Linked DNA regions of Homo sapiens: region 1 is linked to region 2. A link means that fine-mapping ties the variant in region 2 to the expression of a gene that starts in the linked region. Tissue or cell type: testis. Region 2 holds a variant in brackets; the other region holds the start of a gene. All regions are shown on one strand. Distances are between the middles of the regions.

What was found. PIP is the estimated chance that this variant, and not a neighbour inherited with it, causes the effect.
Region 1: LINC02272 starts here. The variant in region 2 is fine-mapped to the expression of LINC02272 in testis (GTEx, PIP 0.95).

The regions. Positions count from the first base shown.
Region 1 is chr4:156,636,920-156,648,611 of GRCh38, reverse strand. It overlaps LINC02272 (long intergenic non-protein coding RNA 2272), which reads left to right and starts at 6,109. Exons shown (of 5, transcript XR_001741905.2): 1 at 6,109-6,347.
Region 2 is chr4:156,622,495-156,634,186 of GRCh38, reverse strand. It overlaps LINC02272 (long intergenic non-protein coding RNA 2272), which reads left to right. Exons shown (of 5, transcript XR_001741905.2): 4 at 9,338-10,504; 5 at 10,619-11,162. Among named protein-coding and RNA genes, the nearest start is that of LINC02272, 14 kb to the left of the region's middle. The variant G/A (reference allele first, on the strand shown) is at 5,129.

The sequences.
Region 1 (11,692 bases), 14 kb before region 2:
CTTTCTTAGGCAGTGTGTAGGAAAGTTGTGTGAAATGGCCTTAGGGATAGCTATCCTGATATTTTCTAATTTGATGTTTTGTTTTATTATTTTAATTTGGAAAAGACACTTTTAACAAGCTTGACAACTTTGTTAATCATCCAAACTAGTAACAGGAAGGCCAATGAAAGGAGGTGTAGGGAGTTTGGCCGGGAGCAGACAGAGTGACAGTAATGAAAATTTTGATGTTACAGCAAGATAAATAATTATAAGTAGCAGTAGAAAATGTAAAAGCACATTGAAAATTATATCCAGAGATCTAAATAGGTTTTATAATCAATCTATCATTAACAATATTTTAAACTCTATTAAAAATTATTTCAAATGTGATAATGTGACTAACAGTTTGGTTATAGAAAGATAAACATTTGAAAATTCCTTTTTTAAGAAAATTAATTTTTAAAAAATGTTGTAGATACACAGTAGGTGTATCTATTTAAGGGGTACCTGAGATGTTTTGATACAGGCATGCAATGTGAAATAAGCACATCATGAAGAATGGGGTATCCATCCCCTTAAACATTTATCTTTTGAGTTACAAACAATCCAATTACATTCTTTAAGTTATTTCAAAATTTAATACTTCATGGGGCTTCATTTTATCATCTAAAATATTCACAAAAGAATATCCAATTCCTGTATATTTTTTACTGTATTAGATATTATCATGTATATGTGTATATACATGCACTATCCATGCACACACACACACACACACACACACATATATTTACATATATATATATACACATATTTGCCTTTGACTATTTCTTGTTGCACTTTAATTTAGAAGTGAATATGACTGGTATTAAGATCCATGAGTATAGGTAAAAACATGACACCCCACAACAAAATGGGGAAACATATGATAGGGTTTGTATTTGATATTTTCCTCTACCATCTGGAAAGTATGCTGAAATTTTTCTTTTTGGGATTTCCAGACAGTCTGACTAGTCTGACATCTTTGTTCAAAAAAGATAAAAAGTTCCCTTAAAGCTATGTGGAGCTGTCTCGGCAGTTGCTGTAGTTTCCATCCACCTACTTTTTTGCTTCGTTGTTTAAGGCTATGTCCCAGTGACTCTGAAAGTTATAACCTGCCTTATTTCAACTTGCTTAACAAAAGCTTTCAGGGCATCTTGCTTTCATCTACACCATGCACATGGTCACATTTTTTAATGGAAATTCCAGGGCTGAACACTGCCATGGCATTCTTTTACCTCAGTACTTGGACGGCAATGCAGAGAATGGAATACCAAGGTTACAACATAATTGTGGAAAGCTTCATACAGAGTTTTGAACCGATGTCTATGAACCAATGTGATATCAACATCCAGATCAAAGTCTGTCTTAAGTCTCACATGGTCTGAAGAGATTTTCCACCAAGTACAATGAAAATCCATAATGGGAAGAATATATTTTTGTATTTGCAAGTTGTGTGTGTGTGTGAGAGAGAGACTTCATATATATGCATCTGTGTGTATGTTTGAAGTGAGAGAGGAAGGGAAAGGGAGACAGAGATAGAGAGAGATGTGTGCCTGGATGGACTGAGAAGTGTCACCACAGCTTTGAAATAATAATTGGACAATTTAACAGTACACAGAATTTGCAAAGCACTGAGAAGTTTTGGCATTTGATATTAATTGAAGTTACAAATATGATCATCTGTTCTGTTGAAATGTTTTAGCTATGTTGTCTCATAGTAAATTCTTAATACTGCATTCCAATGCTATGTAATGGTGGAACATCATTCTCAGCATCATTTGATGATGCTCCAGCTTTAAACTATTAATACTTTAGCCCGCAGCATCCTTGAATCCAAGCTCAACATATGTGCTTAACATACAAATTTATTGATGGGTAGTATTTATTTAAAAATTACAATCTAAGATCCTAAATATTTCATGCCAGATTTTATAGTTATTTAGAAAAAAATGGGCAAGATTTTACCTGATGTCAAATATCTAAAAGCTCTGACTCTTTGTCAGGAATTCATTATCTTTAGAGAAGAGGTAGGCTCCAAATGAATAAATATAGTCTAAACTATGTCAGGTTCAAAGAGGCTGTCAGAGTAGTTTTGTGTGAGGTAATTCCAAGATTCTGCCTAATTTATAACATAATAAGTAAAGATAATCTTTCACCAGGGGTATGAGATGGAAGTTGAAGAACTGTATTTTGGAAAAATAATATGTACCCTCCATATTTCTTTTCCTTTTTCCTTGATTTACTTCAACAATAATGATATGATGTATTTACTGAGAATGATTTTTTTATAGCAATGCTTTAGAAATGAACTGGAAACCAACTTCTCAGAAAATTTGTCCCTATGACTACAATGCAGATGAGAAGTATGTGTGTATTTTGGTTCTTTGACTCTTGATTCGTTTCTCAAGTGTTCTTTGAAAAGCGATAAATTCACTTATATTTTCAGAGAGCAGCAAACCTTGGAATTAAATCATCATGGAAATAAAATAAAAAGCAAAAGAAGATGAGCCATCCTTAAGGGGATTCTGGAAGGGTCCTTTGGTAAAATGATTTTTTCAATATCCCAGTGACATTACCAGCAATCTCACTCAATGGAAAATAATTGTAGTATCAAATTTTCTCAAGGAATGAAAACATCTCTAATATAGTGAACAGGTCATTCAGTCCACAGAGGTGGCATCGGAAAATGGCCCTTCTTTTCCTTTTGTGAGCTTCCCCTTTCCTAAATGGTAGTTTCTCAATCACAACACCTAGTTGCTTGCCACAGAAATGGAAATTGATCTCTGCTAACTAATCACTGATCCCATCTCACTGGCTTTGGTGATTGTCCAGTTTTGCCATATAATCCAGGCAGAGCCAATCAAGGCATTTTTGGGGGAAATTATATGTATACCAGGGGAGAAAGGATCTCCATTCCTCTGAGATTGCAAATACTAAGTATCACGTAAAGCTACAGCATTCCAGAGCTATTTTGATTGTTCATGGATGGAACGTGGCTAAAAATAAATGATTTGAGTGAAAAACAGAGGAGTGAGAGATTCTTAATGACATTCTTCACAATTCTGGATCTAGTTGTGACTAAAGGTTATACAATTACTTTGATTTCCTAATTAAAGCAGCCAATAAATTATCCTTTTGCTTAAAAAGAAAACACTGGTTTTTCCACTTAAAAAGAAACCACTGTTTACCAATATAGATATTTTATTCCAAATTTCTAGCTACATGCTGGCTCAGATTCAAAGAGTATAGATTATTGGAAAGATAAAAAGAATCAGAGGGAGTTTATTTTGGAGCATACATTATTGTCAGGGAGCATATTTCTAAGAGGTCATTGAATTGGGAAGATTTAAAGAGACCAGGGTAAGGCCGGGCGGGGTGGCTCATGCCTGTAATCCTAGCACTTTGGGAGGCCGAGGTGGGCAGATCACGAGGTCAGGAGATTGAGACCATCCTGGCTGAAATGGTGAAACCCCCTCTCTACTAAAAATACAAAAAAAAAAAAAGAAAAAATTTAGCCAGGCGTGGTGGCGGGCGCCTGTAGTCCCAGCTACTCTGGAGGCTGAGACAGGAGAACGGTGGGAACCCCGGAGGCGGAGCTTGCAGTGAGCCTAGATCGCGCCACTGCACTCCAGCCTAGGCGACAGAGCGAGACTCCGTCTCAAAAAATAATAATAATAATAAAATAAAAAAAGAGACCAGGGTAGAATGTAGAGACACTTATTGGATTTGGGGTGCGAGAAGGCAGAGGAGATGTGAAGAAAGAGTGAACGGCATGAAAATCAATCATTGCTATTACTAATATGTTGCTAGTAAGAGCTCCAAGGAAATTCTGTTCAGCTTTCACTACATTTTAGATACTTCTCAAATAGTAAATAATGAGTCTTCAGAGCTTGTTCACTTACATTTCTAAACTTTGGATTTTGGCAATAGAAAAATCAGGAGTTAAAGGAATCTGGGCTATAACACTGTACTCCAGAATTTTTGTTGTTTTATCTTCTCTTTCAAACTTAAACCGTGTTGACAAAGTAATTGGGTAAACTCCATTGGCTTTCCTGTTTAATAAAACGAAGGCTGTAGTGTTGCAATCAAGCCATACTAATAGGTTTCTTACATTTGAAGGTATATTTAAATGATAAAAATCCTTTAACAGAAGGTATTGTCTGTACTTTCTACATACTTTACATATAACCTAATCTTAGCAATGAGGGGATTTAATGTTACATTCATACAAATAGTCGCCTTTATCATATAATAAATATTCTGAAGTCAATTTTAAATTGGTGGCATCAGCTAAAGATAAACTACTTAGTTTCTTCTGCCCAAAATAATTTGGAGAAAATTATAATAGTTTTTTCTGTAATTATAATAAATTCAAATTAAAGGTTGTAGTTGTCCAAAATTGACCCTTTGTCACTATGCTCTATGTGTGGTGTCTCTAACTGGCTAGATGTTGAGCAGAATACAGAACTTAGAGTACTGACAAATGGTCTAACCAAAGTAAGGGCTGAGATTCCATAGGGAGTATTAACATTTATGGGAAAACTGACTGTGAGGGAGTGGAAGATAATTAAACCAGGGCTAATAGCAACAGACTTGAATTTCAGAGGGCCACCTGGATATCTTGTTCTCAGTCACTTTCTCTCATGTTTCATTTTCCTCATTTGAACAGGTCAACAGTCATTAAAATTTTTCATAACATCTGAAGCAAATCATTGCATTCATTTCTTTGTAAGGTTTAAAAATCCACATATTTTATTGTTAGCATTCAAAACATTTACTTTTCACCTTTTTTTTCTTTTTCTTGATTTTTTATAAAGTTGAAATAGTCTGGGAATCATTAAGTGCCAAATGCTTTCATCAGGCCCATAAACAATGGAAGATTCCATAGAAAATGCAGTTACTTCTTGGGAAGTTTCAACAAAACACATTTTCACTCATTTAAAGCTCAGGAAAATAAATCTTGAGGTCCTTTATGAAAGGTACACTTTAGACCCTAACGAAGCTGACACAGTACTGGATTTCACAGAAAAGGATTACAAAAGCTGTGTTACAGGCTCAGTAAATTCTGGAGGTTGTTGGAAGAGTTGACATGCATCTCAGTATTTGAGCAATTCCTTTTTGTCTCACTATCTTTGACCTAGGAGGTTAGATAAAATATGAGAACAGAAAATAAGCTTTTAAGAAACTATCTAGTTTTAATCAAACAGAAGAACCATTGAGGTCAGGTTATTAACCAAGATAAAGGCCAAACTGTTATGCCCTCGTTTCTCAATATCTTACAACTGTAGACTTATTTTTCTTTCCCTAAAACATATTTCTATCATATATTTATATTTGTGACATTTTCTATAATGCGATAATTCCTTGGGTTTTAATATGCAAACTAATACTCTTTAAAAAATTACCTGATATGTATAACTTAATTATTGGTACAATTAAGCAGTAACTGTAAAATTAGTGAGTAAATACCATTAAACCAGTTATTACAAGTATATATGCTAATATGACAGACAGCAGAGAACTGTACCCTGAAAATGGACTCTCCTCAACATTCCCTTCTAGCTACTTGAAAAAGGAAGGTCTACTGAATCCCTACTAGTAGACTCCATTGATCTCCATTGATTCACAAGAATAATAGTGTGAAACTAATGAAAACATGATGGCATGCAGCACAGACGGAAGGCTAGTAATTTTCACAGTATTATAGTCCAAATCCACCTGTCTCAAAACAACTCGTTAAAGTGTTAGCTCTCTTGTCATCATTTCAAACCACTCAATTTGATGTCTCTAGTAGTGTGTGCCAGGAATCTGCACTTAACAAGTTGCCTCATATCATTCTGATCACTTTTAAGGCTTAAAAGCTACTGCTATGTGTTGGGATGGGTGATCAAGTTTGGCTGGAACTTGCCATGTCTTTAAGCTGAGGAGCGAGTGGATCAGAGAGCAGCTGACCTCACAGAGCCATGGTTCAGTGACTCATTCAGACATGTCCTTGAGTAGTTGTTCTGGATTTCCTCGATGGTAGCAAGGTGAACTCATGAGGTGCTGGTCCAGAAAAGAACACGAGTGACTATGCCCATTGTCACTGCTCAGAAGTGTTCTGGAATCTTGTTTCCCGCCCTGAAATAAGTTGATGGCAGTTATGGCATGGGCTGATCTACCCAGTCAGCAAGGCCAGATTGCAGAGAAACTCAGAGTCTAGGAAAATGAATGTCTAGGAACATTCCTCAAATAGTCCTACCAGAAGACACAAAGATGATGCATCCGGATGAAGAATATATCACTGAGATTAATGGCCCTGGGTTGCAGCCAAAAGCATCTCAGAGGTTAGTTGAGGACAAAAAGAAGTGTGTCTTTCAATCCATCTCCAGCAGACTAGACACTTGAAGCAAGAAGTGTTCACAGAAGTGATAGGGCATTGAACTAATGCTTGAATTTAATTTAGCCTGTAGCTATTTATTAAATATGTCTAGCCTTTCTCAGGCAAAGAATTGGTGTCAAGGGCAATGAAAGTTAAAGTCAAATTAATCAAAACGCAAGTGAAGAAATTTCACGAAATATATATGGCATTGTGTGTTGGGTGGGGAGCAGAGGGGCAGAGGTCTCAGGGGAATTTGGGCTTGTAGAGGGAGTAGAGGTTGGCAAAAGGGTCCCTACCTTGTAAGATAGGTCTCTTCTAATAATTTGCCAGAACTTGAAACTGTGTATTGGAATAACTTTCATACTTGAGAATCTACTGCAGGTAAACTGGTCATTGCTTGACTTTATTATTACTAATTTTTATGGTATATATCTACTTCACTGGTTGATGATTCCATTCTTGGCTATAGAGAGATTTGGTTCTGCTTTTCTAATGTGTCAACTGCAGATGAAGTGCTTGCCAAATATTTAATAATGGGTTATAAAGTCATTTATGTTGGAGATTATTACTGCCACAGTCTAGGAAATGGAAATTCAATGAAATACAAATGACTCTACTGTCTCAATACAATGCCAGACTTGAATGAGATAATTTATGAACAAGAAAATGGCTATATTAAAAAGCATTATTAGATGAGAATGATGTCCACACAGTAGCTGACACATACTCTGCAATATCAATAAGAAGGAATTTTTCCACTAAACGGGATTTGTAACTGGACCTGCGTCTGGAGTTTGTTGTATTAAGTAAAGACAATAAATATTTCCTGCCTCCTTCCTTCCATCCTTCCCCTTCCTTCCTTCCCATCTTTTTTTCCTAACCCCCTTCCTTTCTTTCTTCTTGAGTCCTAGTTTTCTTGTAGATGACTCTGTTTTATGGTTCTAAATGTGGTGGGAGATAAGAAAGCATTGCAACAGGAGTCCAGGGACCAGGCGTCTTTTGGCTAAAAATCACCTGTATGATGGGATTGAGTAATCTAATCTCTTCAGGCTTGAGTCGATTTACTCATAAGAGGAGCAAGATTTGAATGACTATTCCATGAAATTAAACAAGAACTTGCTGAGTAGTGGGATGAAAAATGGAAAAGGCAGAGGGCTTATTTCAAGGAAGCTTCTGTTTGTTAGAAGAGGTGAAACTAAAAATAAATGTAGCTCACATGTCTCTTGAGGCCATCCTATCTTTTGGAAATGAAATTAAATGGATTCGATGGCCTTATATATTATCCCATGAAAAATATCTTGCCTTGCATATTTTTGAAAATTCCTGGAAGTTATATGTCAACATTGTCAGTTTTGGCTTAGGCGTTGGGTGTTTCTATTCCCACTGAACACTTGATTTAACTTAAATATAATTTTCTGTGTCTATTATCTTTCATCTGTACTAGGCCTAGACATAGAACTCAACCCGCTTCTTCTGAGAGAGGCAGCAGGGCATAGAGGTTGTTTGATGACAGTCTTTGTGCTTAGGATTGAATTCTCACTCTGACAGTACCTGTATAAGCTGGGCAAGCAGTCTATCCTCAGTTTACTCCCTTGTAAAATGGGCTAAAAATTTTTCTTATTCATACAGTGTTTTGTGAAAGCAAATGTGATCATTTAGACAAATACCTTCCATAAAGTGTGGTATAACGTAAATATTCAATACACTGTTATCATTCTTTAAAGTCACATATACTGGTACTTGTGCATATAGCATATGCCGTAGAGGCCTAAGAGTGCTGAGGACAGTTTATTGCATTGCAGCAACATAAACCATTGACCATTAGATAGAATTGTTTGCTAAGAGCACATCTGTTGATTTTTTTAACCATACCACAGAAGTAAATTGCAATACATGGCAATAGATGCAGTACTACAAGGCTCAAAAACCAGGGGGTTAGGGATTCACTTTGTCTTGGGAAAAGGGGCAATGGAAGGCTTCAGGAGAAGGTGATAATTGGCAGATGAATAGGGGTTTATCAAGTCAGTAAATTACAGAGGGCATTACAAGTTGAGATAAAGAAATGCACAAACCCTCTAATTTGGCATTCAAGGCATCATTTCACAGAATGTTTATTAGACATCTAACATGAAAAATATTGCTTTGGGAGCTGGAGTTACAGGAGAAGATAAAACTGTCAAAAAGACTGTAAGGATGCAACGTGTTATGAGAATAGATGTCAGGTCCTTTGGGTGTATATAGCAGGAAGCCTTAACCTGGTCTGAAATTGGGTTTCCTTGAGTATGTCATATTGAAGTTAACACAGCCAATGCCTCAGTCAATGCTATCAGTCCTACTTTTTGACAGAAATCTGCAGAATCCTGCACTGTCTTATCACCATCACTACCATCACATTGCTCCAAGAGACCATTGTCTTTTACATAGTCTACTGCACAGACTCGTAACTGCTCTCTCTGCTTCTCCCCTCCCCTCTTACAATCCATTCTCAACACGGGCACTCCAGTGATCCTGGTGAAACCTAGTGTTAGTCTATGCACTTCTTAGCTCAAAACCCTCTGATGACTCCTATTTTGCTCAGGGTAGAGTGGGAGCCCCCCCATAGACCATCTGATCCTGTTACTTATCAGTAGCCCCTGACCCTTTCTCCCTTGCTTATTGGCCCTAGCCATGCTAGCGTCCTGCTAATCCTCAAACACATCAAGCATGCTCCTTCCTCAGAATCTTTGTGATTGCTGTTCTCTCAGCCTAGAATGCTTTTCCCCCAGATATGAGTATGACTCACCCTATAATTTCCTTCAGATTCTTTCTCTAATGCCACTTTCAAAAACTACACAGCAACTACACAGTAAAAAAAAAAACCATCTCTGCCATCTCAGTATCCCATTTCCCCTCACCTTGAATTAGTGCTGCCCATGGTACTTATTCCATCTGACATACTTCATACTATTTGTTTATTTATTCGTTGCCTCTCTTCCCTTCCTAGAATGTGAGCCCAATGAGCTCGCTGATGTAACACCTGTGTCTAGAATAGTGTTGGGTACATAGCAGGTTCTTTGTAAGTGGTTGCTGAGGGAATGAATGAACATATGAGATGTGTTTGATAAAGAGGCTTGTGACAAGTGAGGTGGAGGGCTGGTTGGGGCAGGCTTCCAGCAGAGGGAACAGCAAATTCATTGGCTTTGAGCCGGAAAATGCAGCAAGTTGGAATGCATACAAGACATGCAATGTGGATGGAGTACAGAAAGCAGAGGAAACTGGAACTAGAAAATTTTTTCCCCTCTATAATCCTACTGTGATGATTAAAAATAAGATTCATTTATTATATTTTAGACTTTGTGGTGGAAAGTGGAAGGTACCTCAGGAATATAAAATGACTAGATTATAGCTGTACAATAAAATATTTTGTCTGTCAAGAATGTTTGCCTTACTGTTCTGAAGTTGTAGATTTGATAAGCTTTCTGGAATTATTTGATGTTTTCATTTGATTAAAAAAACTTGGGGACAAATCTATTCGGATGCTAAAAAAGAAAATATGGTTTTTCTTAATCTGCATTTTTTCTGTCCAATTTTAGAGACTGCCCTTTCTTTTCATTTTGCATTAAATATTCAGCAAGGCATTTTTGAAATGCTTTAAATTTTTGTCCTCTCTTTCCTTGGCTGTGACGTTCTTGCCTTGGCTGTGAGGTTCTTTCCTTGGCTGTTTTTTTTTAAGCAATCCGACAAGTTTTCTTCTGACTGATAGCCCTGGTGGCTGAGTGATGAGTGCATCTCATCTGGTTTGGGGACCAGTATACAAAGCCGTGCCTGAGGATCATGGAACATGGGCTGGCTGCTGCCATCCACAATATGAAATGAAAAGTTCACTTTAGAAAAATACACGTGGTGAAAGAAAATGTTCTTTTTACTTCAACATGGGAATAAAACATAAAATAAAATACATTCCCCCAAATGAGAACTCTGCTGAAATGGCTGATGTAGGGGAAAAAGAAATGCATAAATTTGCTTCTGAAGCTTGAGAGTGTTGCTAGAAGAATGTTGAAAACTTTGGAGTTCCATCGTATTATTTCTTGTAAAAATGTTTATTGATTTTCTTACTGAAGCTTAGATCATGTCTACATGAAGCAGAAAATTTACTTTGACTTGGAGTTTCTTACAGTCTAGCCAAGAAGAGTTGGAAGACACAAAAAATTGAACATTAAGTCCTAATTTGTGTAATTGTATCACTGAAGCCTGCTGGGGCCTTACTAGCATGGCTGCTGCTGTAGCGGCTGCTGGTGGGGAGGTATCAGTAAAAGAGAATGTGGCTGGAGGAACAAGGGTGGGGTAAGTCACCTGTCATTTGGCTTTAGAGAGGGGGTTGAATTTTTGCTTAATGTGCCTTAACTCAAGGATGTGGGAGAACCTGATCTTTCATCTGACAGATTTGCCATGATAAGAGATCAAGAATTGCATATGGGATGCCTTATCAGATTTTATCGGATTTGTAGACTATTAGGTCGAGTTTGCAGCTGTGAAATTCATTTATTTGGTGAATAATGCCTGTCCACAGTACTGAGGGCATAGTTCTGGATAAGTCAGCCAGGGCTTGGGATGAGCTCTAAGACTAGCAGGGAATAGTATTGTAAAGCAGGAAAATCAATTTGGTGCTGAGCACCAGGGTGGAGGTGGTTTATATAAACTGCAAGATTATGGGAGTATGAAAAACTAATATTTGAGAAAATGGGCCATCATTGAATGTGAATGTCATAATCAGATCTCTGTTTTGTTTATTTTTCTTTCAAGCAATTCAAGTACAGGTAACTCAGACAGTACAGAGAGGTACAGAATGAAAAGCAAATGTCATATAAATTTGTTCCACTCTTTAGAAGTAATGATTTCACATTTCTCTTCTTCCATAACAAAGGTTTAAGAAACACCTTCTAAAGCTGCTTAATATAGAGACTTAAGTGTTGCATATAAAGTTTAAAAATAGCCAAGAGAAAAATCGTAATATCATGATATTAGCAACAAAATGTAGCTGGCTGTGGGAGAAAAGTGTCTGTTACCTTTCACAGCAGTAAGTCAGTAGAAAAAATTTGGAGTTCACTGACTAATATTTAGAGATAAAATGGAACTGTGTGGGAAGATCAAAGTCACAAACTAAAACACTACAAGTAAAAATGTTTTCAGATGGCTAATGTGTTTGGAAATCAGGGTGGAGAATGGATTGTGGAAAGGAAAAGGAATCCCAAAACAGGGAGTTAATTTTGAGGCAGTACCACCAAGGCAAGTTGAAAATGGAGAGACCCTGGCCTGGGTAGTGTAATGTGG
Region 2 (11,692 bases):
TTTCTTTTTCTAATCTGTGTACAACGCAAAAATACTTTTGGTTTCTCGTAGACATAGCTTTGGTAGAATTCTGCTGCTCTTTCTATTATAGTTTGACAGCTGCAGTAAGCACACACATCTGCCATATTGAGGTCAAGTGGTACACTGTCATCTATCGTAACAGCTGTTGTTGGGGGATCGTTTCAAGTATCCAAAGGATGAATGGAATATAAATGATCACTGCATAAAGTATATAAATTTGGGTTTATTGGTTTTGAAACTGATTTGTTATCCACATACTCTGTAGTTTTTTTTTTTCCTAGTACTCCCATGAGGCTCAGCATGAGGTTACAAAGAAAAAAGAAGTCCTCATCTAATTATCTAAATATTTAAGAATGCTGAAATCTTGCTGGCGTAACAAATCAGTGCCAGAAAAAAGTCTCGTTAAATGAACAGTTTCATGTATGGTTCCTACTTAAAATATATCACAATCTGAACTTAAAATGCACATATAAAACTATAATATATAGTACATCATATATGTAATACAATATATGAAATACATAAAACAGTATATTAATAGGTCAAATTTTAACGTTATATGATAGGCCTAATATTGCTTTAATATCATTTGTAAAGTCTGTCTAGATCTATGTTTTTCTCTCTCTATCTCTATCTCTAGATTTGGATCTCTGTCTCTAGGATAGACTAATATTACCACTTCTAAACATCTATCCTGGAATATCAGGTCATCTACATCTATGTACTATGTGTGTGTTGTCACCATTTTGTTTCTACAAAAACAATGCTTTTGATCAAAGTAAACAGAAAGTTTAAGGAGTTCATATTTAAATGGAAATGTATAAACACACATACACAGTCCGGTAGAGCTTGTAAGTGGGTTTGTCCAATGTGATTAGAAATAAAGAACATATTTTAAGTGAAAGGAAATTATTGGTTATGTGGAAGAGTTACAAAGATACAGAGATGTTTTGGGGGCAGCTATCAGTAAAGGAAGGATTATTGTAGGTAATCATATGGTTTGGCATTGTATAATTTTTTCACCATTTACCATTCTTTGCTTGTCTGACATCATCACAATCATTAATTTGTGAAGAAAGTTTCCACGAATAGAAGTCCTCAACACTTAGAATTTTTGTAACCTGCATTTTAGTCACATGTAGGGAGAAGAGAACTTTTATGACAGGATGATGCCATGTTTGATTCGCTTTATGCTAATTCTAAAAGAATGGATCATTTGAATCTATATCATATTTGTGGAGCTCTTGGGAATATGCAGATTAATAAAGGCCATGCTACTGAAAGTTACCTTTTGTTTCTGTTGTCTATCCTCACTCTTCAGTGATCTTATCCAGTTCTCTACCTTAAAAGACTACCTATACACTGATGACACAAATGTATATCACTGGCCCAGACTTTCCCTTAAACTCCAGGCTTCTTCATCCAACTGCCGTGAGACATTTCCTCGGTCATCTAAATGTAGAGAATCAAGCTATTGATTTCTTTACCTGTCTCCCTGTTTTCACGGTCTTTCCTATCTCAAAAATGAATAGATAAATAAATAAATAAAATCATTTGTTAAGTTCTAGCATTTTTAATGGGCCTCACATTACTATAATGTTATTGTAAAGTCTTAGTGAGGACTAAATTTATTCAAAAGAGTGTTATTAGAACAAGAAAAAATGAATAGCTTTACTGTCTTCTCTTTTACAGTAGAGCAGATGTTAACTTTTTTCTTGTTACGATGGTGGTATTAATTCAATATCAACACTTTTCCTGTTGGTAAAGAAAAGCTTTCTGTGCAGACAGACTAGGCAATATGACTTCTAAACAAATTCTCCCTGCTCCTTTGCAGGCAAAAAGGAAATTATCAAAAAACTACATTTTTGAATATGCACAACTGAATTAAAATCTCCAATGGGTAATTGAGATAAAATGTTCTAAAATACTGAGGAGTGTCAATATATATTTCTACATGACCTTGGGTTATTTTCTATTAATATAAGGTGACTTATAATTGCTTTACCAAATTCATTATTTTAAATTAGGATTATGAAGACACATCTTTATATAAAGAATGTGAAAAAGGAATAAACATGCCAGATTAGTATAGAGCCAAGATAACAGTATTTTATAGCCAAGAACATATAGATTATTTTTCTTATTTCCCTGCCCTGGGCAATTTCTGAGAAAAATCCAGAAATAGAAGAACGCTGAAGTGTGAGGTTATGATAACCTGATTTATTGAAGAAGGTAAGCAGTCCAACAGAAGACATTTTTTGGAAGATACAAATCTTGTTTTTCAGACCAAAAAGACAATTTCGCTTGCAGACACCTTCATATGCACACTGTGAGATGTTTTGGATTTTGTTTTGCAGACTGATGAACCATTGTGGGGCAAGTTACTCATGACTTCATCCCTATTACAAATGACAGTTAAGAGATTTACTATGCATATGTAATGATTTGCCACATATGCATAGAATTAAATATCCCAGGCTTCTCTAATGTTTCATGTAAGATCTGCTGTTTTGCTTGGTATATGATTGTAAACGTGGCAGAGTTAAGAGATTTTAAGAACACGTGAAAACAACCTTAGTGATTATGAGTATGTGAAGACTTATTCTCAAGAAGTGATTGATAGATGTGGGAAAGAGCACTATTCTAGGAATCAGGAGACCTGAGTTCCTGGACTCAGCTCCAGTTCATCCAAATGACATGCCTGGGTGGCCTCCCTCTGGGCCCAAGATTGTCTCTTTTTTGAAATGAGGAGAATAATCATTGTCTTGCTGAAGTGCAGGTTGTTGTAAATAATAAAAGGCATAATAAAACAGTTGATAAAAGGCTAAGGAGAGTTCATACATTTTTCCATGGATAAAATGACAGTTCACTCCAGACAGTAGAGCAGATTCAAGGAGAAAAAAGCCAAAACACCAAGTTCAATTATAAAGTCAACACACAACTGATAAAATTAGACACGTGCAAAAGGTAACATAAACATGAAATATTTCTGTTGCTGGAATCAAGACAAGCCTGGCCAAAATAGCATGCTTAAAGCTAATCAAGAATGGTTAGTTTTAGAATGTTTAAAGAGAAATTGTGTTCTGTTGAAGAGAGGTGGTGTCTTGGGGTGAGTTTCTTAAAAGTAGACCCTGAGATGAGGCTCCATGCACTTTACCTATTAGGAAAAGTTCCCCGAGAAATGTAAAGTTTTGAGTAGAGAAGCAAGAAGTAAGGGAAAGAGGTCAAACAAAGGTGTGTTATCAAATTGAGACCTGCAAAAGGTAAATCTGGTTCAGTCCCACAGGGGAGATCTTGAGATCCTGTTGGTCATGTCTAGAACTTAAAAGGAAAACAGTATAAGAGAAAATAGTTGTAACTGTGAATTAGGGATACACCCTGAGGGAACACACTGACATATAAATCTGATAAATTGAATTCACCCATATTTTCTGTATGGTTCTAGAGATGAATGGATGTTTTTGAATATTCATTCATGTAGTCATCCATGCATTCTATGGATTATATACAGACATCTACTATGTGGCGCATGCTGAGTGTGGCAGTAAGGTGTACCCTCAGAAGGTTACCATATACTGGGGAAGACAGAATCAGAGGAGAATTTGTAATAAACAAGTGTTATGGTACCCTCAGGGCTTTACCCAGTTTTTGTCACATATTAGTAAAGAGGCAGGAAAGCCGAATGAACACTCATCACTGTGTGATCCTGAAAATTACCCAACACTTTCTCAGCATGCTATGGATCTGTGCTGTGGAGGTAACATTTGTGCTATGGAGATAACAACTCTACATAAATGATAGTTTGTTTTTGTAAAGACTAAATGAGACAATGCTGTTAGGAATTTTATATCTCTTTCTAGTGAATATTGAACTCATACAAGTAATCTCAATTTTTCTGATTCTACTTTTACCAAAAACTCTGAATATACTTTAGATCTGCATAGAGATGGAAAAGTACTGGTAAAGAATATGAATGGCTTAGTCTTCTGGAAGTCACATTTCACACTGTAAATTGAACTTTAGCTTTATAGACACATAGTACAGTAACCGTAAAAAGTTGTTTAACATCTTCATTGGAATTTAAGGCAGGGTGGATTCTGGTGGCTGCAGGAATCTTTTGTTGTTATTCTCCCAGAATATTCTCCACCGTAGAGGCTTTTCTCACTCCTGAAATGGTACACTGATGGAATGAAGATTTGGAAGTCGGAGAAAGGAGACTGCTAATTTGCTTAGAAATGCTGGAAGTCAGAATACTTGAGGCAGATGGACTGATGGGATGGTACTTTAATCACCTTTTACATTCCCATCTTAGAGTTATGGGGATAGCCCAACAAACAACATCTGTTAGTGGGCAGATGAAACTGGTGGCAATTTACGAGTCGTATATACTCACAGCCCAGGGAGAAGGGTATAGCATGATGTGCAGGGTCACATGAGGGTTGCACTTGGACAACCAGAAGTTGTGGGAGACAGGCATTGTGGTATTGTAGTATCCAGAGGTTGGAGTACCCACTGGTTCCAGGAGGATGTGACTAGCTTGTTTGAATAATTTCGCTGGCAGGGAACTGAAACCTGCTACTGAGGGATAAGTAGGGAGTGCACCTGGTCCTTTTGATAGGGAGGGTTTTTTGGCTAGTGGACCTTATCCATAGAGTTGGGAGGGGAACGTGTATTTAGGCCCTTGGAAGGCCTTTCAATAGATGTCAAGATGGCACATATCTGAGCCTTAATTTTGGGCTTTATGCCACAGAAGGCCAGAGGGGAGGAGTCAAAGAGAAGAGGAGCCTCCTTGAGCAGTCATGATGAAGAGAAATTTTATGGAAATTACATGTTTTCAAGATGCTTTGCTCAAATTATTGTAGGTGCGCAAAGTAAAACCTCTTTCTCCATCTCTTCTCTAACATATCCAATAGCATCAACTTCAATAATACAGGATTTCGTGCAAGTAGAGCTTCAATGAGAAAGCAAAGAAGTGCTGAGTCTAGCTCTAAATTTGGCATGGGGTTAGAGCAGAGACTGCCTTTGGGGACAGTAGTCATGAGTCATATTGATCACTATTTTATGAGCTTGGTTTTCTGAGTCTATTAGCTGCTTTCCAATTTTGTTA[G/A]CACCCTGAAGGTCAGATCCTGGCTGGCAGTCATTTGACAAAGCAAATGCCAACTAGTGGGCCTTCTCAGCTGATACCTTCTACCGGGCCATGTACTTTCTATGTCTGACATATGACCATTCTAAATTAAGTTTGCTAATACTGAAGTATGCCAGCTCCCTTTCTTCTCTGGTACATTTTTCAGTTTCGGGTTTTTGGTGTTTTTTTGTTTTGTTTTGTTTCTTTTTTGGTAACCTCTTTAAAGATTGCACAGCAGAAAACAAATATTTTAGAAAATAAACTATCTGACTTTTTCATTAAATATTTTCACAGAATTTACTTTAAGCAAAGTTTTATCCTTTAGCAACAGATTTTTATCTTTCAAATGTCTATCTTTAAACTTGTGCTGGAAAATTCACTTAAAATAACATGACTAACATTTCCAAGAAATGCATCCATGATTGCATTGAAGTAAACAAAGAAAGAAAATGAAAGGAGGAATATTATTGTTATTCTTATTCTCATTAAAAATATTCAGAGATAGGTGAGACAGAGGGTACATAGATTTAAGATAAGGTTAATGATGTAATACATATGATATGGTTTGGCTGTGTCCCCAACTAAATCTCATCTTGATTTCGATTCCCACAATTCCCACATGTTGTGGGAGGTACCCAGCCTGAGATAATTGAATCATGGGGGTAGGACTTTCCCATGCTGTTCTTGTGACAATAAATGAGTCTCAAGAGATCTGATGGTTTTAAAAATGGGCGTTCCCCTGCACAAGGTCTCTCTTTGTCTCCTGCCATCCATGTAAGATGTGACTTGCTCCTCCTTGCCTTCTGCCATGATTGTGAGGCCTCCCCAGACATATGGAATTGTAAATCTGTTAAGCCTTTCTTTTGTAAATTGCCCAGTCTCCAGTATGTCTTTATAGGCAGCATGAAAACAGCATGATATGTAAATACAATATATTTACATAATTATTTAAAAAGTCCTCTTGGAAAGTCTGCTGGTATTTCTAGGCTGTGGATAGTGCCTTCAAAACATAATGAGTAGTAGATAAAGGAGCATGAAGAGATGGAAAAAAAAGTAGAAGTAGAAATTCTATATATTTTTTTGAAACAGGGTCCAGCTCTATTGCCCAGGCTGGAATACAGTGGCGCAATCTCAGCTCACTGCAGCCTTGATCTCCAATGCTCAAGCCATCCTTCCACTTCAGCCTCCTGAGCAGCTGGGACTACAGGCATGTACTACCATGCCAGGATAATTTTGTTTACTTCTTGGAGAGACAAAGTCTCACCATGTTGCCCAGGCTGGTCTCTAACTTGGGCTCATGCAATCCTCCCACCTTGACCTTCCAAAGTGCTGGATTACAGGCGTGAGACTCTGCACCCAGTGTGAAGTAGAAATTTTAAAGCGCAGATGTTAGAGGAAGTTCAGGGCAGGGTCTCAGAAAACTGTGGGTTTCCTAGTTGCCTCTTTCTATTACCTTTACCTTTCTGCCAAACTGTCAAAGATAATTTTTTTACATTTATTTGACTCATCAACAGTTTTTTAATCTCTCCTCAATTCAATATATTTTAAACTCTGTGGTATACAGTAAACCCATAGTGTAATTTTAAAACTTGTTTAACTTTGATCTACTTTGACCTTTCCTCCAATTCTTGTCTGAGGATGTGGTAGACATTTGTTGTTTTCAGATTGCAACCTCTCCTCCATCTTTCTATGGCAACAGTATCTCATCTGCCTAGAATGAATGTTTCCTCACCATGTTCTTTCCATGTGCTGCACCCTCCCTACACTTCAGGAACTCCTAGGAATGATCAGGATAGCCAGTCCCACTGGCCACAGTTACTAGTTCAGGAATGAGCTCATGACCCAAGTCAACCATTGCAGTCAACTAAATACAGTTCTAGGCCTTTAGTTTGAGCTAGTAGGTTCTTTCTTTCTGCTAGATTCAGTCTTCTGGTCTGGCTGTAAACCTGCAGCTTATGGGGACTGCTACATGGACTCAAATAATTGAGCCAACTCAGAGAAAGAGGGCAGAAAAATGAGCCTTGGAAGATTATCTGAGACCTTTAAGGAATATGAGCCAATATATAACTTTTTTTCATTATTTTACTTGAGAACCTAGTTTTAATTTTAAAATGGAGACTTCTAATAATGTTATGAGTCATTTACTTTCACCTAATCCCCCTGATTTTTTATTTTTGTTGCATTAAACTAGTTTGTAAATTATACCCTACAGGTAAACTAACACTTTCTTTCCCCCCAGTAGTGAATTCTAGCATTAAGCAGCTGAGAGGAAGGTGTTAAAGTCGATGGCCTGAGATCTTTTCACTCCCTTTATGGTAGAATGGTGGATGGTAGAAACAGTACTGGAGGAAAGAAAAGAAGATAGGTGACTCCTTAAAATCTCCCTGTCAACTTAACTGCTGAGTAAAAAACTAACGTTATTTGCTAGTAAGAAACACATTAACTCTTAACTGCTTTTACTAGGATGCCCCAAGCTAGGGATTGCCTAGGAAAATAGAACCTGGGATTTATCAGGTATGGCTTCTAGGGGATGGGAAGGTCATGTCATGAAAGCTGTGCCATTCCCTCAAATTGTTTAATATTTTAAAAGTTCTGAATTTATTAATCTGAACCAGAATCTGGGAGCTGCCATTGATGATCCAGATAGGTCTTTGCGTTTTCTGAGCCTTTTCCTTGACTACATCCTTGAAATTATTTAGTAAAGTTTGATAGGTAAAAGCTCTGATTCCTGAGAGTCTGATTTGACAATCAGGTCCTGTAAATTAGCTCAATGACCTAAGTGGATAAATAGAAGTTTTACTGCATTAGTAAAGCTACTAGCTAAGCTTGGCCTGTAAGGGAGTTCAGTGAGGGTCTCTCTAAGTGTCTTGCACAAGCATTAAAATATATTTAATTTGTGTCACACAAGAGCCTGGGTGATTAATATGCATGGCTTCTGCATCTACCTTTTGAATAATGTTAGAGAGAATTTGTTGAAACGGGAATTTTGTGGCCTCATTGTTAAACGAGTCCTAAAGATCACCAACAAAATCATCATGGCAAATATGACCACATTCCAGCAGGATAGGCCTCATCATCAGTGCAAGACTTGAAAAAGAGGTGAAGAAAACAGATTTGGAAACTTTGACCTTTCATTGATTTCTAGAGTACAACAGTTGGAGTTGAAAGGGCCAAGGATATCAAGAATTAAGTCTTTCTTTGAAGAATATGAATCTTTGGTGTGCTATAAATTCCTATAAAAAAGGAAGAATGTCCTTTTCACCTGAAGCCTTGTGGGAATGGCTTCACAAAGGCTGGTCAGAATTTGGGAATTGATGGAACAGATACATTCCTCCTTATTAACTAAACTGCTCCCCATTGCATCCGCCTCTCACTCCCTCTATCAATAACAGGGGACAAGAAGCCACAAACAGCCTGGGATTGGGTAGTGGGAGAGAAGCCAGTCGAGTGAAAAAATAAAGCCCACCAAGCAGGCTGATAATCTGAAGGAGATAAAATCCTGGAAAAGAAGAAGTTCAACCCTAAACTAAATTATGCGTTCTTTAAAAAAATGCTTGGATCTTAATACATTGATCAGCAAAAAAAATCGATCTGTAACAGTGGCCATAAGTGATCAGAGGACATTTTAGTTTTGTGAGGGAGAGAGAATAGTTATGAAGATTATCCATGTTTTCATCCATGGTTGAAGGAAGAGCCAGCTTTTAGGGGGGATTTGATGGATCAGTGGGGGTGGGAGGATGGGGAGTTAGGGGGCAGAATAAGATACTTTTCTGACTTGAATACTTTTTTTTCTTAATATTACCAAAAAACATACTTGTTATGTTCCTCTTTCTATAATTTTTGGTGATATAACTGTGATAAAAGACAAATCTCAAATGTAAGTATATAAATTGGGCTAGGAGATGTAGATGTATTTAAATAACTCCTTCTGTTGGAAGGGCCCAAGATCATGGGCCCTTCCCAGGGTGATCTATGCCCAGTGACTGGTAGACATGGGATATAAACACTTAGGCCTCTTTCTCCAGCTAGGAGAATCTGGAGGTTCATCTCAGCCTTAGAGCTCTGCATAGGGATGGCCGAGGCCAATGTTGAGACTGTATCACAGCCATCATTTTTTTTTGTCCATTTCTCCTTCCTTCCCTTCCCTTTCCTTCACTGGTGCTGATTCTAAGATTTCTCATAAATCTTTAGCATACTACACCCATCTCAGAGCTGGCCTCTTGAGGTAGCCACACCGCCACAGGAACCATTGTAATCTCTGCATCAAGTTCAAGTTCACAAATAAGCAAAGAGGTGTGTACTACTATTTGACACTTAGGTGTATTGGAGCACAATTTGACATGAGTAAGGTTATTAAGGTTTACATTTATTTTCTTAATTGTGTTCAAATGTAATTCCTTTAAGTTCCTGGAAGAAACACTTTTTATTTATATTGGTATAAACTATGTGGAAGTTTTTAGAGGAAATTTAATACTGTGTAAAGTGAAATAAAATCATTTTTACCTTCACTGCCTTAAAAGAGACATAAAAAATATAAATCTAATTTAGAAGTTTCAATAGTTTATTAGTTTTACCTATTTAAGCTAAATTCCTTAAATGTAGTTTTTCTTTTGGGAGGAAACATTGTTTTGTGTGTGATGAACACTTAGATAACTTTCAAGAAGGATATAAAACTGATATATATCTTCACTCGCTTGCCAGATAAAATAAGAAATTTCTATTCATGTTCATTGACTCATTTATTTTTTTGGTTAAATTCTGTTTACTTATGTCATTTGTTTTAAGTTTTTATTAAGGTGACAACAAATTTCAAACTGACAGCATTTAAAATAAATATTCACCATTGCCAACATAGCTTTTTAAGAGTCTGCAAATAGAAAGAAAGGTAATTTTTTTCTGTATTTTCCAGACTTGTGACAAAGAGCTAGGTGAAAACAGGGGAAAAAGGAGGAAAATAAAGAAGCACCAGACTAAACCTGAAGAAAGGGGACATTTAAAAATTCTTCCTTTTGTGTTCAGAGCTCACAACATAGAAAAAGATATGGTTAAAAAAAAGTCGTGATGCTCATAAAAAGCAACATTTTATTTTCAAGCCAATTACATTAATTATACAATTACCTTGTAGCCAGTAAGAATCACATATATATGAAAGCAAAATATTGTTTAATTGAATAAAACAATCTGATACATATGCCCAAAAAACAATAGAGTAAATAAGAGTTTTCCCAACAGTGGCAAAGAGAATAATTTTCATGTTGAGTTTTATTGATCTCCGGAACAGTAGCTCCCCTGAGCAGAGAACCATAACAGAATTAAGGAAAGATATTTCCATTCCAGAGACCAGACATTTGGAGGACAGTGAGTATAAATCATGAACCTAGCCAATTATTTTATTTCTTATTGGATTCTTGACTGTTTCTTACTTTCATCATTTCGTGAGTCATGACTAACAGTGCTTGTGCTCATCTACAGTAATTGATTCTGAGAGAAATTTCTCCAAGGATTCCTGCAGTTCTCCTTTGAACATACGAAGAGGGAACATTCTTTCAGTCCTAGAAGTTGCTGAAGCAGAGATGGAGAACCCCAGACTGGAGGGCTTTGATTTCACCCTGCACATCTAAGGGCATAAATTGGTTCCAGGTCAGGATCATATGAGCATAAGTCTGAGTTGGGTGTCTCTGATCATTCCAGAATTCCATTGGAAGGCAGACTTATATTCCTGAGAAGCAGGAATGAGAAGCACAGTGGAATTTTGCAAAGGAAACAGAACTTGAACTCAGCAGTCGTAGGTGCCAGTCCTTGACTAGCTATAATATTGGGCAAGTCATATAAATTCTCCAGGCACAGTGTCCCTTTTGGCAAACAACAGACAGAATATAAATATGTGTTGCCAGGTCAGTGGACATTTCAAGGACAGTTTGATTTTAATGTGAAGTCATCTAATTTTAAATGCTCTATTAAATTTTATTTTTTTTAGTTGTATAAGCTTAAGAACAGGTATCAGACAAGACTTCTTCAGGACAGACAAAGCACTATTTCATTTTTTTTTCCTCTGGCCTTCCCAGCTCAGATTCTCAAAAAATAAAAGAAATTAAAAAAAAAATTCTGCTTTCAATCCCTGCTTTTTTCTATTTTTTAATTATCACACCATACACTTCAGTTGGTCTTCTGCTCCACCACCTCATGAAAAGGATCTCTATTAAAAACTCTCAAGACTTCACGTCACTAACGAAGATGGACATTGTTTTTTCCCCTATTTTACCTGACCTGTAAGTAGCATTTGAACATCTCAAGTAACCTTTCCTTCTTGAAATCATCATTTTATTTGGCTTCATTGACACATAATCTGCTTTCCTCTGATCTTTCTGGATGCTCTTTCTCAATAGCCTTTTGAAAAGGTTTCTTCCTCCTCCCTCTGTCCTTTAAATATTGTATTTTCAAAACTTGCTCTAGCCGTTTTCTTTTTTCAAACCATATTATCCATGCGAATGTCTTTGAGTACCCTTTATACAACAAAAGAATCCCAAATGTGTACCTCTATGGACT